Linked DNA regions of Homo sapiens: region 1 is linked to region 2. The links come from fine-mapping of genetic effects on gene expression. A gene starts in region 2. The other region holds a variant in brackets. All regions are shown on one strand. Distances are between the middles of the regions.

The links.
Region 1: its variant is fine-mapped to the expression of RNF169 in whole blood (INTERVAL, PIP 0.97).

The regions. Positions count from the first base shown.
Region 1 is chr11:74,968,214-74,976,548 of GRCh38, reverse strand. It overlaps SPCS2 (signal peptidase complex subunit 2), which reads right to left. Exons shown (of 5, transcript NM_014752.3): 4 at 6,850-6,984. It also overlaps the pseudogene RNU6-216P. Among named protein-coding and RNA genes, the nearest start is that of NEU3, 17 kb to the left of the region's middle. The variant T/C (reference allele first, on the strand shown) is at 3,466.
Region 2 is chr11:74,743,912-74,752,199 of GRCh38, reverse strand. It overlaps RNF169 (ring finger protein 169), which reads right to left and starts at 3,351. Exons shown (of 6, transcript NM_001098638.2): 1 at 2,818-3,351. The coding sequence starts at 3,319. It also overlaps the pseudogene RPS12P22. RefSeq lists silencers at 2,577-2,676, 2,687-2,946, 2,977-3,126, 3,300-3,520 and enhancers at 2,494-3,087, 3,237-3,326.

The sequences.
Region 1 (8,335 bases), 220 kb before region 2:
GCTAGACAGGTTTTCCTCGCAGACTCTTCTCCCCTATCTCACCTGAGAAGTTCTTATTTGTTAACACTATACTTGGGCATAAACTTTTCTGGGAAAGCCTACCAATCTGGGTCAGATGTGTTTCCTCTGTCTTCCACAGTACCATCAATCAATACTCAACTCAAATACTGACCTCCTGTCATATGCCAGGCCTAATAATAGGCTCTTATGGTATCAACAAAATTACCTATCTGTTGACATGATGTGTACTACTTTCTTCACTAGACTGGGAGGTTTCTTTTCCCTTTGTTTCTGGTGCTTGAATCAGGATTGTCTAGGAGATTCTTGAGCAAAGATTGTTGTCTTAATTGCTTCATACTCTTAGCTGGGCTTCTAGTAGGCAATCAAATTTTTATAAATAAATGAAGAACCCTTGCTTTCAAGGATGCTCTCCAATCCCGGGGTGCCTAGTCCTTGCACTCTGTAATCAATCTAGCTCCAGGTTTTACTCTGATCCCAGGCCAGGGATGCCAACTGCTTTACTAAATGAACTCCAGAGATTCCTTTAGCTATACTTCAAGGTACCCTGAAGGCCATTACTATGTCCATTCATTCAAGAGGGTTTAATGACACCAATTACTGGTAGGCTGACATCCCCCACCCTGTTTCCATTTATTAGGACATATTCAGTGGATTGTCAAGCTAGTATTATCTTTAAATGAAGCAGTTTCTTGAGGCTCTATTTCTGCATGTTTAAAATGGGAGAACTTCCACCTGCTTTCAGGATTACTGTCATGACTAAAACAGTGTCTATCATTAACTAGTGCTCAAAAGGTCACAGCTCCTCAATAATTGTTGGTCTAGGCAGTAACTCCCAACTTGGAGAGCTAGTAGTGAAGTTCCTTTAACTATTTTCAACACCTCAAAATATTTTCTCAAGTTCTGACCAACTGCTAATTGATATCACAGTAATTTTTAGACTTCTGTGCCCAGTTTTATTGGCAGTTACATGGCTTTGGTGGCAGTCCATGATCTGATGAGTTGTGACCTGATACATTTTAGAAATGTTCATTAATTCAGATATTTACTGAGCCTACCTATATGTGACAGGCAGTTTTAGATGGTAAGGATATACGGCAGTGAACATAATATAAATGTCTGCCTTTTGGGACTTTCATTTTAGTGTGTGTGAGGGAACAGACAGTATAAAAAAAGAAGATGTTCTCTTAAATAGATGGGCAGAAAAGCCTTCACTAAGCAGATGTCTGAGCAGAGACAAGAAAGGTAAGAGAATAAGCTATCTGGAAAAAGAATGTTCCAGGAAAAAGGAACAGCAAGTGCAAAGGCCCTGAGGCAAGAACATCCCTGAAATGTCTTAAGAACAGAAAGGGGCCTAATGTGAACAGAATGAAGTGGGAGAGGATGAGAGCCAAGGAGATGAGGGTATGTTTGCATCGGTGTGTGGAGTGCAGAGAATAGACATGTATGGACTTCTAAGCCATCCTTAGGATTTTGGCAATTTCTCTGAGAGAGTTTTGAGCAAAAGACTGAGTTGATCTGACTTATGTTTCAAAAGGATCACTTTGCTTGCTGTCCTGGGAATAGACTATGGGTGGAGAGAGGGCTGCAGAAGTCCATTACAACATCATTACAGTGGGCCGGGTGCCGTGGCTCATACCTATAATCCCAGCACTTTGGGAGGCCAAGGCGGGCAGATCACGAGGTCAGGAGATCCAGACCATCCTGGCTAACATGGTGAAACCCCGTCTCTACTAAAAATACAAAAAATTAGCCAGACGTGGTGGCTGGTGCCTGTAGTCCCAGCTATTTGGGAGGCTGAGGCAGGAGAATGGTGTGAACCCAGGAGGCGGAGCTTGCAGCGAGCCGAGATCGCGCCACTGCACTCCAGCCTAGATGAAAGTGTGAGACTCTGTCTCAAAAAAACAAAACAAAAAAAGAACATCATTACAGTAACATATGTGAGAGAGGATGGTAGCTGTGGAGATGGTAAATGGTTGGACAATACATTTAGATGGTGGAGCTAACAGGATTTGCTGACAGACTAAAGAAGGACTGAGAAAGAGGAGTCAAAATGACTCCAGAGCTCTGTAAGGACAGCACTGCCATTTATTGAAGTGGGAAAAACTGAGGGAAGGGCAGGTTTGGATGAGTGAGAGATGAGTTAGGTTTTGGACCTGTTGACTTTGAGATGCCTATTAGGATCCAACATCAAAAAGAATGCCAGAATATATTTAGAGTTCAGAGAAGAGGTCAAGGATGAAAATACAAATTTAGAGATCTTCATCATAGAGAAGAGGTTCCAGAACAAGCCCTGGTGGCATTTCAAATGTAAAAAAATGGGAGATGAAGAATCACAAAGGAGACTGAGGAACAAACATTAAGGTAAGAAGAAAATTAGAAGTGTGTGGTATCTGAGAAGCCTAGTTAAAAAAAAAAAGTATTACAAAGTAAGGGTAATTAGCTATGTCAAATGCTGCTGACAGGTCAAGTAAAGGAGACAAGAGCAGATCCAGGTGATAGCACAAGAAGAAAAGGAGAGCAGAGAAATGAGGAGACTGTGTGAGAAGCAGAAGGGGAAAGAAAACCTTTTTTTTTTTCAGTTGGGAGAAATTACAGTATATTTGTATGTCAGAAGGAATGATCCAGCAGAGAGGAAAACATCAAGTAAGAGAGAAGAGATAGAATCCCATAGACCCAAGGGAGGGAAGGCCTTAGATAGGTACTTGGAAGTAGGTGAGTAGTGATGGTAGACTTATGATGGCTTCTATCTTCCCAACAACAAAAAACCGAGAGTAAAGATGGGGGAGGAGGCCTAGCAGGTTTGAGGACAGGGAAGATATGAAAGATCCTCCAGGACAGGGAGAGAGTAACTGGACTACAGAAGTGTCATGGAATCTAAGCCAGGTAAGGAGGAAGTGAAGTGGGTTACAGATGCCACTGGGGCAGAAGAAATGCCGTGACAAGAGAACTAGAAGGAAATAAATGAGAGTAACAGGAAGCAATGGTCAGGGTGGGATACTTAAAACTGAAATTATTGCAGGTAATTTGTTCTTATTAATTGCAAGGTCTACTAGGGTATGTCTATGAAAATAAATGTTTAAGGCATGATAGAAAACAGGATAATGGGAAGAAAGGAAGTAAAACTGAGAGGCCAAGTTACTAGAATAACCATCTATGTGAATATGGCAATCACCAAGACTTAAGAAAGGACAAATGTTAGAGAGAGTGCCAATGAGCCAGGAATTATCTTCAAAAGACTAGGTGTGTGTTTAACCGCAAAGAAGAGGCATAGAAGTGGCACAATGTGATGACATGCATTCAAAGGGGGGATTTTAGGGAAGAGGACGCATTGGAAGCTGCAAAGGAGAGACCCATCTCTACCTGTAGTACCGGAGTAATGAAGGCTGTGAGAGAAACATCAGCCACCACTTGCAGTCTGCAGTGGAAATATGTCCTCAGAGGTTA[T/C]GGTCAGGTTTCACTTAGGGTAAGAAAGAGAAGGGATGTTCCCCTTCCTGTGTCCATGTGATCTCATTGTTCAATTCCCACCTATGAGTGAGAATATGCGATGTTTGGTTTTTTGTTCTTGCGGTAGTTTACTGAGAATGATATATCCCTTGGGGAAAATATTGCCTAAGTATGCAGGAAAAAAAAAAATATATATATATATATAAAACATTAATAAGAGAGATTAGATTGATTTATAGCTATGCTATAAATGAAATGAGATAGATTTTATATTGTCTTATAACCTTATATGGTAAATGTTCATATTACAAAGTTAAATAAAAGTTTCAGTGGATCCAATTTGTTGTTTAAAAAAAAAAAAAAGAGAAGGGAATGTTCATAGAGATGGCTAGGTTATAGGGGACTTTGTGGATGGCTGACAATGACTGGGCTGCAGGCAAAGACTAATTAGGAGGTCAAGGCTGCAGCCCAGCCCAGATGAATGTCAATCATTCACATAACAAAACATGCCACGCCAGGCCCTGGGCTGGGTCTGGTTACCAAGGGGTGAGTGAGAAAGTCCCACCTGGGCTTAGGTTTCTACTGTATAGTGAATGGTAAAGGAGCTCACACTTTGGAGGAGGGGGCGGGCCCAGGAGGAGACACAGATATTAAATAATTATAGCTCCATGTGGTAACTAACAGAGGTAAGCATAAATGCTTTTAAGAATAACTAGGATGGGCTGGGCGTGGTGGCTCACACCTGTAATCCCACCACTTTGGGAGGCCAAGGCTAGGCGATCACTTGAGGTCACGAGTTCAAGTCCAGCCTGGCCAACATGGTGAAACCCCATCTCTACAAAAAATACAAAAATTAGCCGGGTGTGGTCGTGGGTCCGTAATCCCAGCTACTCAGGAGGCTGAGGCAGGAGAATCACTTGAAGCCGGATGAGGAGGTTGCAGTGAGCCAAGATCGCGTCATTGCGCTCCAGCCTGGGTGACAAGAGTGAAACTCCATCTCAAAAAAAAAAAGAATAACTAGGACCACCTAATTTAGACTAAGGCATGTTAAGGAAGACTAAGGTATGTCAGGGAAGGCTTCTTGGAAGTAGGAGTGAGCCAGGTTACAGAAAGATAGCTAAGCCAGAGAGAAGAATATGTTTAAAGGTACGGGGTCACTGGAAACTTGGATAACTTAGCATATTGCAAATTCCATAATATTGCCAGAGTAAGAGAATGTATTTTGAGAGGGGCATAAAAGAAAGCTGGAGATGTCACTAGGGGATGAATGCTGTAATACTTCATATGCTGAAGGAGTTTAGACTGTATAATGAATTTGCTGGGGAGTGACAAAATCACTTTTTGCGAGAGAGTCACATAGCTTGTGTTGTCTGCACGTGGCAACTAGTAGTCTGTGAAACCTTTCATTGCCATTTTCACATCACATGACCTGGCAGTGGGAATAAGACATCAGAATCAGCCACTGTTAAGCTACTAAATCAGTCGGTGAGGTGGGGGAGGGAGAAGACATCAGCAGAAAGCCGGGAAGAGAGCAAGAACATTCACATTCCACTCCACCAACAATACGGCAGTTGGTAAAAATCAGCAGGAAACGTGAAAAAAATCAGAACCCTTGTACACTGCTAGTGAGATTGTAAAATAGGGCAGCCACTTTGGACAACAGTCTGGCAGTTCATCAAACAAAGAGAGTTAGCATACCATACAAGTCTTCTCCCAGGTGTATTACCCAAGAGAAATGAAAACATGTCTACCTAAAAACATGTACACAAATATGTATAGCAACATTATTCATAATAGCCAAAAAGTAGAAACAACCCAAATGTCTGTCAACAAATGGATAAACAAAATGGAATGTTACTTGACCATAGAAAGGAATGAAGTACTGATACATGCTACAACATGAACGAACCTTGTGTGCAGTATACATAGGAAGTAATTGCACTAAGTGAAAGAACCCAGTTATAAAAGACCACATATTGTATGATTCCATTCATATGAAATGTCCATAAAAGAGAACAGAGAAAGTAGACTGGTGGTTGCCCAGGGCTCAGGCAAGTGGGAGGATAGGGAAGTGATTAGCTAGAGTACAGAGGTTTTTTTTTTGAGGTGATGAAAATGCTCTAAAATTGACTGTGATAATGGTTGCAAATATCTGTAAATACTACTAGGTACTTTTGAACTGTACACTTTAAATGGGTGAACTGTATGTATGGTAGGTGAATTATATAAAAGTTCTTAAAAAATACAAAAGTCAGAATAAAAATAATGAAATTATAATGCCGCTAGGTTTTAGAATTCTGCAACTCAGCTTCAGTGGCCTGGTAGAGGATGCAGATTATGATGGCTGAGGCCAAAGGGCAGCTAGAAGCCCTGTCAGGAGATAAGCAAGAACTCAGCTGCAACAACAGAATGAAGGTCTGCTTCCCTTTCTCATAGGCGCTTCTACAAGTTGGCAATGAGACAGTCTGTATGGCACAGATGCTACACTTAACTTCATATATAAATAATTGTACCTATAATTTGTGCGGCTATTATGCACCAGTTAAGTATAATAGGTTTTTAAGATAGTGACTACGAGTATGAATTCTGGTTTCAAACTTGGGCTGGAATTCCTGCTCTACCACTTTTGGGCTATATGATACTGGAAGAGTTGATTTAAACTTTGGGCCTGTATTCTTATCTATAAAATGAGTGTTCTAAAACTTAATGAGATAATGCATTTAGCAGAATACCCAACATACAGTAAATGTTCAATAAACATTTGCTATTATTATAATTGGTATTTCATCTTCCCAGAAACTCTAGGCATCATTTTTGACCCCACTAAACCTCAGATAATTTATATGATTTACCCAAAGTTATACAGCTAGAAAGAAACTGAATTGGAACATGAACCTAGTTCTTGGTACCTACAAAACACATGTGTGTCAGCTGCACAAAGTTATACCTGACACTGGTCAGAAACAGACTCTAGATTGTGCTTTTTTTGAGTTGCCCAGTGCACTGCTCCAGATATTCTTGATTGTATTCGTGGAGAGAAGACAGGATCATAGAAGACACAGAAGCTAATGGAATTCTTCAAAGATAACTGATCTCACATCTTTGGCCTTTATACTTTTGTATGCTTAATCGTCTCTGTTAACTGGCCACAGGAAAAAGTACCTTCTCCCACAGTTTATCCTCAGAGCATTTCTGTGATAACGCAATCTCAGAACTATAGGGCTAGGACAAACCTTCTAGATCATCCATACTCCTTTCTTCATTTTATATGACTAGCCCTATGATCCACATAGAGTAGGCACATAATAAGTCTTCTGTTGATAATGACAACATGCCAGGGCAAATCCAACACCAGGATTTAAAAATCTGTGAGGATAGTCATACCTTTTAAGACTGGAGGACAGCTGCCAAATATCATCAGGATCCATTCCTGTAGGATCTTTCCTGTGGGCCACGAGAAAGATGCTCTTCTCCTTATATGAGGTATAAATGGTCAGAATCCCCATCATCACAAAATAGGTTCAAATAAAGTTAAGGGGAAAATACCCAAACATAAAAGAGAAGTAACACAAATTGACAAGCAACAGATATAAAAACTTTCATAATGATAGTCCTAAAGAAGACAGCTTTGTCTTGCTGCCAAAACACTGAAAATTTAGCTATTTCATTTTCATCCTTATGTTTATATACCAAGAGAAGCAAGGCTCTCTCTGGTTAATTCTGCAAACACCTCAGAAAGGAAGAAAAGAAAAAGATACAGAGCATAAACTAGCTCTCATCTTTATGTTCAAAGACAACATGTATAATAAGATACCTAGTTTGTCAAGACTTTGTTATAATAGTGCTTATTTCTTTATAAAAAACAACGAATAGTCCCAGTGGACTTGACCATGTTCAACTGATTTTAAGGGTTATTAAGAGAAGAAAAGTGACCCAAATAGTTTACTATAAGAGAGTATGTCAAATAGTACTACGATTACTTCCTATATGCATATAGACTTATTATTATATTGTTTTTGACAGTATTAAGTACCATAGTTAATAAGCACTTATAGTTTGCCAAAAACTGGCATAAGAGCTTTGTGTATACTGTGCCATTTAAATTTCATAAACAAGGCTGGGCACGATGGCTCACACCTTTAATACCAGCACTCTGGGAGGCCGAGGCAGGTGGATTGCTTGAGACCTGGAGTTTGAAACCAGCCTGGCCAACAAGGAACAATGGGAGACCCCATTTCTACTAAAAATACAAAAATTAAGGCTAGGCGTGGTGGCTCACACCTGTAATCCCAGCACTTTGGGAGGCTGAGGTGGGCAGATCACTTGAGGTCAGGAGTTCGAGATGAGCCTGGCCAACATGGTGAAACCCCATGTCTCTACCAAAAATACAAAAATTAGCTGGGCATGGTGGTACATGCCTGTAGTCCTGCTACTCAGGAGGCTGAGGCATGAGAATGGCTTGAACCCAGGAAGCAGAGGTTGCAGGGTTGCAGTGAGCCGAGATCGTGCCACTGTGCTCCAGCCTGTGTGACACAGCAAGACTCTGTCTCAAAAAAAAAAAAAAACAAAAAAAACCCACAAAAACCAAAAAAAAATTAGCTGGATGTAGTGGTGCAGGCCCGTAATCCCAGCTACTTGTGTGGCTGAGGCAGGAGAATCACTTGAACCTGGGAGGCAGAGGCTATAGTGAGGCAAGATCGTGCCACTGCACTCCAGCCTGGGCAACAGAGTGAGACCCTGTATCAAAAAATAAAAATAAAATAAATAAAATAAAAATAAATTTCATGAACAGTGCTCGCTTCGGCAGCACATATACTAAAATTAGAACGATACAGAGGTTAGCATGGCCCTAGCACAAGGATGACAGGCA
Region 2 (8,288 bases):
AGTGCAGCGGTGCAATCTTGGCTCACTGCAACCTCCGCCTCCTGGGTTCAAGAGATTCTCCTGTCTCAGTCTCCCAAGTAGCTGGGACTACAGGCACACACCACCATGCCCAGCTAATTTTTGTATTTTTAGTAGAGACGGGGTTTCACCATGTTGGCCAGACTGGTCTCCATCTCTTGACCTTGTGATCCGCCCACCTCGGCCTCCCAAAGTGCTGGGATTACAGGGGTGAGCCACCGCGCCTGGCCAAAGGGAATCTTTTCATTGTATACTTTGTTACATTTTTGTTTGAATCCTGTGAATGCACTGCCTATTAAAAATTTTAATTTAAAAATACTGTATATAACTACAAGAGGATCAGACAACCCACTGAAGCTAAGAGATACTTCCTAAGCCTTTTGGCAATATTTTTGTATTCTAAAATTTTTCAACTGAATAAGCACATAACTGTATATACAAAACAATCCAACAACAAGAACATTTAAGAAAACCATTTTTCATTTTGGTCCTCATATAAACATATAAAGTAATTAATGAATACTAAGTGACTCAATAGATTCTAATTTGAAATCTCATTTTAGATAATTTCCCTTAATCACTGATAAATTTTATGACAAAAACATCTTCAAGGGAAAAAGTTTGCACAAATCATCAAGCCAAACTTCCTCTCATGGTTCAAATTCAGAACTGGTATTTCACAACAGTCTCCAAGCTTAGAAATCAAAATGAAAATTTCTATCCTATGTGGCCATATAATCAGTAGTACTAATAGGGAGACCAGAGAAATACTGTCTTATATCGTGACCATAATCTCAGACTATAAAGCAAATTAAGTAGCATATGAAACCATCACACCACATCCACAAAATTAAAGACGTTTCATCCCTGATTTGAGCAGGAATAGGATAGAATCGGGTTTTCATCCTTAGGCAAGTTAGTTAACCTCTCTGGACCTCAGTTTCATCTATAAAATGGAAATAAAAGTACTTATCTCATAGGGATGTTGTGAAGCTTAAAAGGAATAACGAGGGCTGAGCACAGTGGCTCACGCCTGTAATCCCAACACTTCAGGAGGCAGAGGTGGGCGGATCACTTGACGCCAGGGGTTCGAAACCAGTCTGGCCAACATGGCGAAACCCCGTCTCTACTAAAATTACAAAAATTAGCAGGGTGTGGTGGCGCGTGCCTGTGGTCCCAGCTACTGGGCGGAGGCAGGAGAATCGCTTGAACCTGGGAGGCAGAGGTTGCAGTCAGCTGAGAGATTGGCCACTGCACTCCAGCCTGGGAGACAGAGTGAGACTCAGTCTCAAAAAAAAAAAAAAAAAAAAAAAAAACCTTGGGAGGCCAAGGCGGGCGGATCACAAGGTCAGGAGTTCAAGACCAGCCTGGCCAACACAGTGAAACCTCATCTGTACTAAAAATACAAAAAAGCCGGGCGTGGTGGTGGGCGCCTGTAATCCCAGCTACTCGGGAGGCTGCGGCAGGAGAATCGCTTGAACCTGAAGGGGTGGTGCACAGAGGCTGCAGTGAGTGGAGATCGCACCATTACACTCCAGCCCGGGCGACAGTGCGAGACTCCATCTCAAAAAAAAAAAAAAAAAAAAAAAAAAAGGTGAGGGGAGTGACAAGGAACATAGAAAGTAAGATGCAGGTCCCCCTCAACCCCAGGAATAAAATAGCCCAATATCCTAGGACAGTGACAGGTGTCTCTGGCGGCTTGAATCAAAACAGAGTGCATTCTAGAACCTGTGGTTTCTAGAAGCTGCACTTGTATACACAAGCAATGCCTCTCTTTCCTTACCCAAAAAAACACATGGCAGAATTCCCAAAACAGAAGGTACAAATATCTGGCCTTTCGTGATTTATGTTTCTTGAAAATCTCATTCTAGGTAAGCATTTTTTATCAAACAGAGCTGCAGATGTTATGTTGACTGGGTGTGTCCCCAAAAGAATCCTAAGTTATAACAGTCTTATTTTATACAGGGCACTTTGCATTTCAAAGCTCAGAACCGAGGAATAGCAGGCTGCTGGTGTTAGGGGAAAGAAGTTCAAGGCAAGAGTCCTACAACAGACTTTTAATTGCCAGCAAGCCAGTAGGAAACCCATACTGCCAAGGAGATAGAAGCAGCCCCTGCCACCCAACCTTTGTTTCCAAAACTTTTAAACCCAAGCCAGCTTTTCTGTCAGGCACTACTGGACTTAGTAGTACTAGTATTACAAATATAAACGACAGTCACTTACTGCTTCCTCACTATGTGCCAAGTTCTGTGCTAAGCATACATTTTCCAAAATGTATGAAAACAACTGCACAAGTGTGCTCCCAACCCCCTCTGCTCTCGAGTCTGAAAAGCTCCCTTCACATCCTCAAATTCAACCTGTTCCCTAAACTCCGGATTCTCCACACCCTTCACTGACCCTTTCAAGGCCAGGAGCCACATCTCTCCAAGCAATATGACCCCCAAACTCTTCATCCAACATTAAACCAAGCACTTCTCTGATCCAAGGCCCCTCCCACTCCCACACACCAATTCCAACCTGCCCCTAACTTGTTCCAACAATTCTGTTTCCCTCCAAACTTCGGACTTACGTAAGGCACAGGGTGCCCTCACCGCCCCTCCGCATGCAACGTGCCTGTCCTTCACTCTGAAGTTCAAAATTCACAAACACACTGCACCTGGGTAGAGCCCGGGTTCTAATCCCACGAGAACTCTCCACACCCGCCCGAGTAGGGCCCGGGACTCTCCACCCCCTCACCAGGCCGGGCCGGGGCGCGCTCGGCCTCGCTCCAGACCCTAAGGGGAAGTGGGGAAGCTCCACCTGGCTCCGCAGGCGCGGCACGCGGCTCCTGCTCTGGCCTGGGCCCCGCGGCAGCCGCGCCCCCGTCCCGGCGCGGGCGGCAGCGCTCGGGTTGGCTGCGGCGGGCGCACTCGCCCAGCACCTCTGAGTCGGCCTGGCCGTCGTCGCGGGCCCGACGGCGGGCCCAGCCTGGGCCGCGGGCGCGGCAGCGAGGGCAACCCGGGCCCGCCGCGTCGGCGGCGCGTTGGGCGCAGCCTCGGCAAAGCGAGTGGCCGCACGGCAGGGCCGCTGCTTCTCCGGGGGGCTCCAGGCACCCGGCGCAGCCCGATTCCTCCGGCCGCGGCGGCAGCGGCGGCTGCAGCAACGGCGGCGACAACACCAACAGCGAAGGTCCAGAAGCCGGGCCTGGGGCCCCAGTCTTAGCTGCCGCCGTCTCGTCACAGCGGCCCCGCCGGCCCCGCCGACTCAGAGCGGCTGCTGCCGCCGCGGAAGAGGCCCGAGTACTCGGACCTGCAGCCGCCATCTTGTTTCCCGTTTGAAGGGAGAGTCGGTTGCGAGGGAGAAGAGTGGAGGGCGGGGCAGTACGCGCGGTGGGCAGTGCTATCTACATATTCATGAGGGGCGAGGCTTCTGTGAGCCCAAAGAGGGTTCTCCTCAGACCTGATTGGCCAGAGGGGATACTTCATTAATATTTATTAGTTATTCTTTATTATGCGGTCATCAGCCGCACTCTCGAAAAGTCCTTGCAGTTTCCTCTTACTGAACTGAAAGAGGTGGGAACTGAGGGGCTTTACTGGCAATTCTGAACGATGTTAAACTTTGATACACGTACTTATCCTGTAATGCCTTGATAACTGAGGAGAAAGTGAGTGGGGAATATGTGAGTTACTCAGAAACCTGCCTTAGTGTTCATTTGATATGAGGGCCTGAGCTCTCTCCTAAGGATGGGGGTAGCTTTGTGACTGAAACCAGGCCCACCGTGGTAACTAACTGCCAAAAGGAGCAGCCTCTTGTCAATCCTACCTCCTCATCCTCTCTCCCCATGTCCCTTCCTGAAACTGCCCCCCTTGGCTGGTAAAACCACACTTTCCTGGTTTTTTTCCCAGGCTCTTGGCTCCTTCTCAGTCTCCCGTGTTTGGTGCTTCCATGTGGGTGTTCCTCTAGGCTTAGGCCTCAGTCCCCTTCTCACTCTGCGTGCTGCACTGGTCCACATTTTCTTCCCTCAGGAGCTCCCAGATTGCTGTCTGCAGCCCAGGCCTCCTGAGTCCAGCCCTCCATATTCAACTGCCTGATGGAAACATCCTCTTAGATCCCTACATTCCTCATGTACAAAACTAATGTCACTGTCTCCCATCCTCCTTTCAAAACTGCTCTTCTTATTTCCTTCATTCTATGAAAGGTCCCATCCTCCCAGGTACTCAAGCTCCAAACCTAGTCATCTTGAACTTCTTCCTTATCTCCCACAAACCATCAGTTATTTAGTCCTGTCAATTCCACTATCAAAATGACTATTTCCCCACCTCTTCATCCCATTCCCACTGCCCAATTCAGGTCTAATCATCTCTCATCTAGATTACTGCAGTAGCTGCTATAGATTGATTGTCTCCCCTCTCCCAACCTCTTTTCTAATCCATCCTCCACACTCTTCGAGTTGCTTCCTATAGGCCAGCTCTGACCGTGTCACTCCTGCTTGAGCTAGGGAGAGGTGCTTGGACTTTGATGCTAGTGCCCTTTCTAGATGCAGAGGTTCCAGGAGAAAGAATGACCCCTCTCTAATGGAAAGGTGGTTCTGCTACAGTAGTTCTCCCATTCTTTGCTTTCTTTGCCCTGGGATAGATTTGGAGCAGGGCAAAGAATGGGAAGCATTAAATAAATGGCATTTCTTAGTGGAAACCTTTATAGGATAACACGAGTTTTGTAAAGAGAGAAAAATAAAAAAGCAACATAGGCTGGGGGCGGTGGCTCACGCCTGCACTTTGGGAGGATGAGGCAGGCAGATCGCTTGAGCTCAGGAGTTAAAGACCAGCCTGGGCAACATGGTGAAACCCCATCTCTACAAAAAATACAGAAATTAGCTGGGCATGGTGGCACTCACCTGTACTCAGGAGGCTGAGGCAGGAAGATCACTGGAGTCCATGAGGTTAAGGCTGCAGTGAGCCGTGATGGCACCACTGCATTCCAACCTGGACAACAGAATGAGACATTGTCTCAAAAAAAAAAATCAACATAATATAATAGAAGGCATGAGAAGCCCTGGGTTTTGATGAGATTGCCCAGAGCTAGCGGTAAACCAATCCAGTGCCGAGTGATTGATTAACTCAGAGAGCAGGGGGAAAAAAAGGTGATGGATTCCCAAGATAAGAACCAGATGGCTAAAGGACAGTCAAGAGTTGAAGAAAGGCCAATGGGTGATTAAAACAAAGACCTGTTTGCATAGAGACCCAGACAGAATCCTGCCAGACACAGAAGTATGGCCTTGGCTAGGCTATCCTTTATCCATGGGTCCTGCCCACTTCCATCCCAACTTAAGGTTCTTGAGGACATTTTTCCCGGATTCTGACAAAGGAGATCTGTGATCCAGAGATCAAGCCAACCATCATTAGAAATGGGACCATTTGTGCAGGCTGTTCACTCTCGATGGTTTGGATCTTTTAATCTGTTTACTGTTGGAGGAGCTGAGCCACAGAAACATAGCATGCTTTCTTGGATACAAATAAATATAGAAAATTTCCTTTAGCAGAGGGAAAAAGCAAGAGGTCTGAGTAGCACTGGACCAGAAGCCAGGAGATCTGGGGTTGGTCTTGGCCCCTTCTAACTCACTGTGTGATTTCAAACAGCTAACTTCCTTCTGGGCCTCAATCTCCTCATTTTTAAAACAAGAGTATTGAAGGCTTGGTGCTGTGGCTCACGCCTGTAATCCCAGCACTCTGGGAGGCCGAGGCAGGCAGATCACGAGGTCAGGAGACCAAGACCATCCTGGCTAACACGGTGAAACCCCGTCTCTACTAAAAATACAAAAAATTAGCCGGGCGTGGTGGCGGGCGCCTGTAGTCCTAGCTACTCGGGAGGCTGAGGCAGGAGAATGGCGTGAACCCGGGAGGCGGAGGTTGCAGTAAGCCGAGATGGCACCACTGCTCTCCAGCCTGGGCGACAGAGCAAGACTCCATCTCGAAAAAAAAAAAGAGTATTGAAAGTCATCAGTTCTCGCCCTTTCCCTCCTGCCGCCGAGTCGCGCGGAGGCGGAGGCTTGGGTGCGTTCAAGATTCAGGTTCACCCGTAACCCACTGCCATGGCCGAGGAAGGCATTGCTGCTGGAGGTGTAATGGAGGTTAATACTGCTTTACAAGAGGTGCTGAAGACCGCCCTCATCCACGATGGCCTAGCACGTGGAATTCGCGAAGCTGCCAAAGTCTTAGACAAGCGCCAAGCCCATCTTTGTGTGCTTGCATCCAACTGTGATGAGCCTATGTATGTCAAGTTGGTGGAGGCCCTTTGTGCTGAACACCAAATCAACCTAATTAAGGTTGATGACAACAAGAAACTAGGAGAATGGGTAGGCCTCTGTAAAATTGACAGAGAGGGGAAACCCCATAAAGTGGTTGGTTACAGTTGTGTAGTAGTTAAGGACTATGGCAAGGAGTCTCAGGCCAAGGATGTCATCGAAGAGTATTTCAAATGCAAGAAATGAAGAAATAAATCTTTGGCTCACAAAAAAAAAAAAAAAAAAAAAAAAGAAAGTCATCAGTTCTCAACCTGGGACACACCTCAGAAACACCTGTATATATCAAGGTCCCACCTCAGATCTAGTGAACCCAGAAACCCAGGTGGGGGATACCAGGCTGTGTATTTTTTTTTTTAGTGCCATAAGAATTCTAATGAATACTCCTAGGTAAGACCACTACAATAGATAAATTCAAAGGACCATTCCAGCACTAACATTGTAGAAGTCCAACTTCCAATTTCCAGCCTCTTCTCTCCTCTATGCCATTGCTGAGTAATCTTACTAAAAGCAATAGTGGTGACAGAGAGCAAGGCACACCTAAGAAATCTGGAGAGCCACTCACTATGTGGGAAGCTAATAACAATGAGGATGATTCTAAAGTTTCAAGCCTAGCAGCCTGGGATTGTGATGAAAATTGAAAACTGACAAAAATGCATCCAAACCTCTTTCCTTCCTTCCCTCCTTCCTTCCTTCCTTCCTTTCTTTCTCTCTTTTTTTTTTTTTTTTTTTTTTTTTTGAGACAGGGTCTCATTCTTTTGCCCAGGCTGGAGGGCAGTAAGCAATCACGGCTCACTGCAACCTCTGCCTCCCAGGCTCAAGCAATCCTCTCACCGCAGCCTCCTGAGTAGCTGGGACTACAGGCACATAACACCACACCCAGGTAACTTTTATATTTTTTATAGAGACAGAGTTTCACCATGTTGCTCAGGCTGGTCTTGAACTCTTAAGCCCAAGTGATCTACCTGCCTCGGCCTCTCAAAGTGCTGGGATTACAGGCATGAGCTACCGTGCCTGGCCCAAACCTCCTTTCTATTTAGGGAATTCCCCATTCTATATAGTATTGATGAGGCTAGGGAAGCTGAACCTGAAGGGATATTCTTCTCCCTGCCCCCTAACAGTTAGGACGTGACACATGACCCAGGCTCAGCCACCTGGCCACTATTCTCTGAGCTTGGCATCTTCAGCAAGTGACATGAAAACATAGAGACAATTTTAGAATTATTCATAGCAACAGAGACAGTAGGTATGCAACAGCAGTGGGGCCCTGGTGGGGTTTGAGGGGGGTGGCCCTGCCATGATGAGGGTGGCCATGCCAGGCTGTACCTGAGACACAGACTTGGCTGTGGTTCCCGTTGCCGAGCCTGCCTAGGTTACAGCCCATTTTCCATATCCGATGCTGCAGTTTTCCTGTCAACTCTTTGTATCCTTTCAGTAAATTTCATTTTTTCTTAAATGACTCACAGTCTCTGTTGTTTACATCAAAGTACTCTAACTGAGACATTAGCTTGTTGTTTTTGAAGTGTCGCCTAAAAATGGTTGTCAAGGGTGCTTGGTAGATTATAAAATGATACAAGAAGCTTAAGCCAACAGCCTAGAGTAGAACAAGCCCAAATAGCTTTTCTCTAAGGCCCCACCTGCACCACAGACCACCATGGGAAGAAGGATTCACAGACTCCCTTTAATGCACGATGCCAACTGGAACAAATGGCAGTGCAGCCCCAGGTACCAATGCTTCCCCTCCAGCTGCTTTCTGAGGATTGCATTGCTGTCAGAATTCCCTACCATCCTTCTCATAGCACCTCTACCCAGATAGCTCTGCATGGTTCCACCCCACCACTACCCCTTCCTCACTCCTCATCCACATCACTACAAAACTTCCCTCTAGCTGATGGCTCCAGCTTCTCCTTGCTGGACTGAAAGACTCAGATATGAGCAAGGCCATTCAGCCTAGTTCCAGGTGGAGACAAGGCTGTTTCTTCCTGCAAGCCCA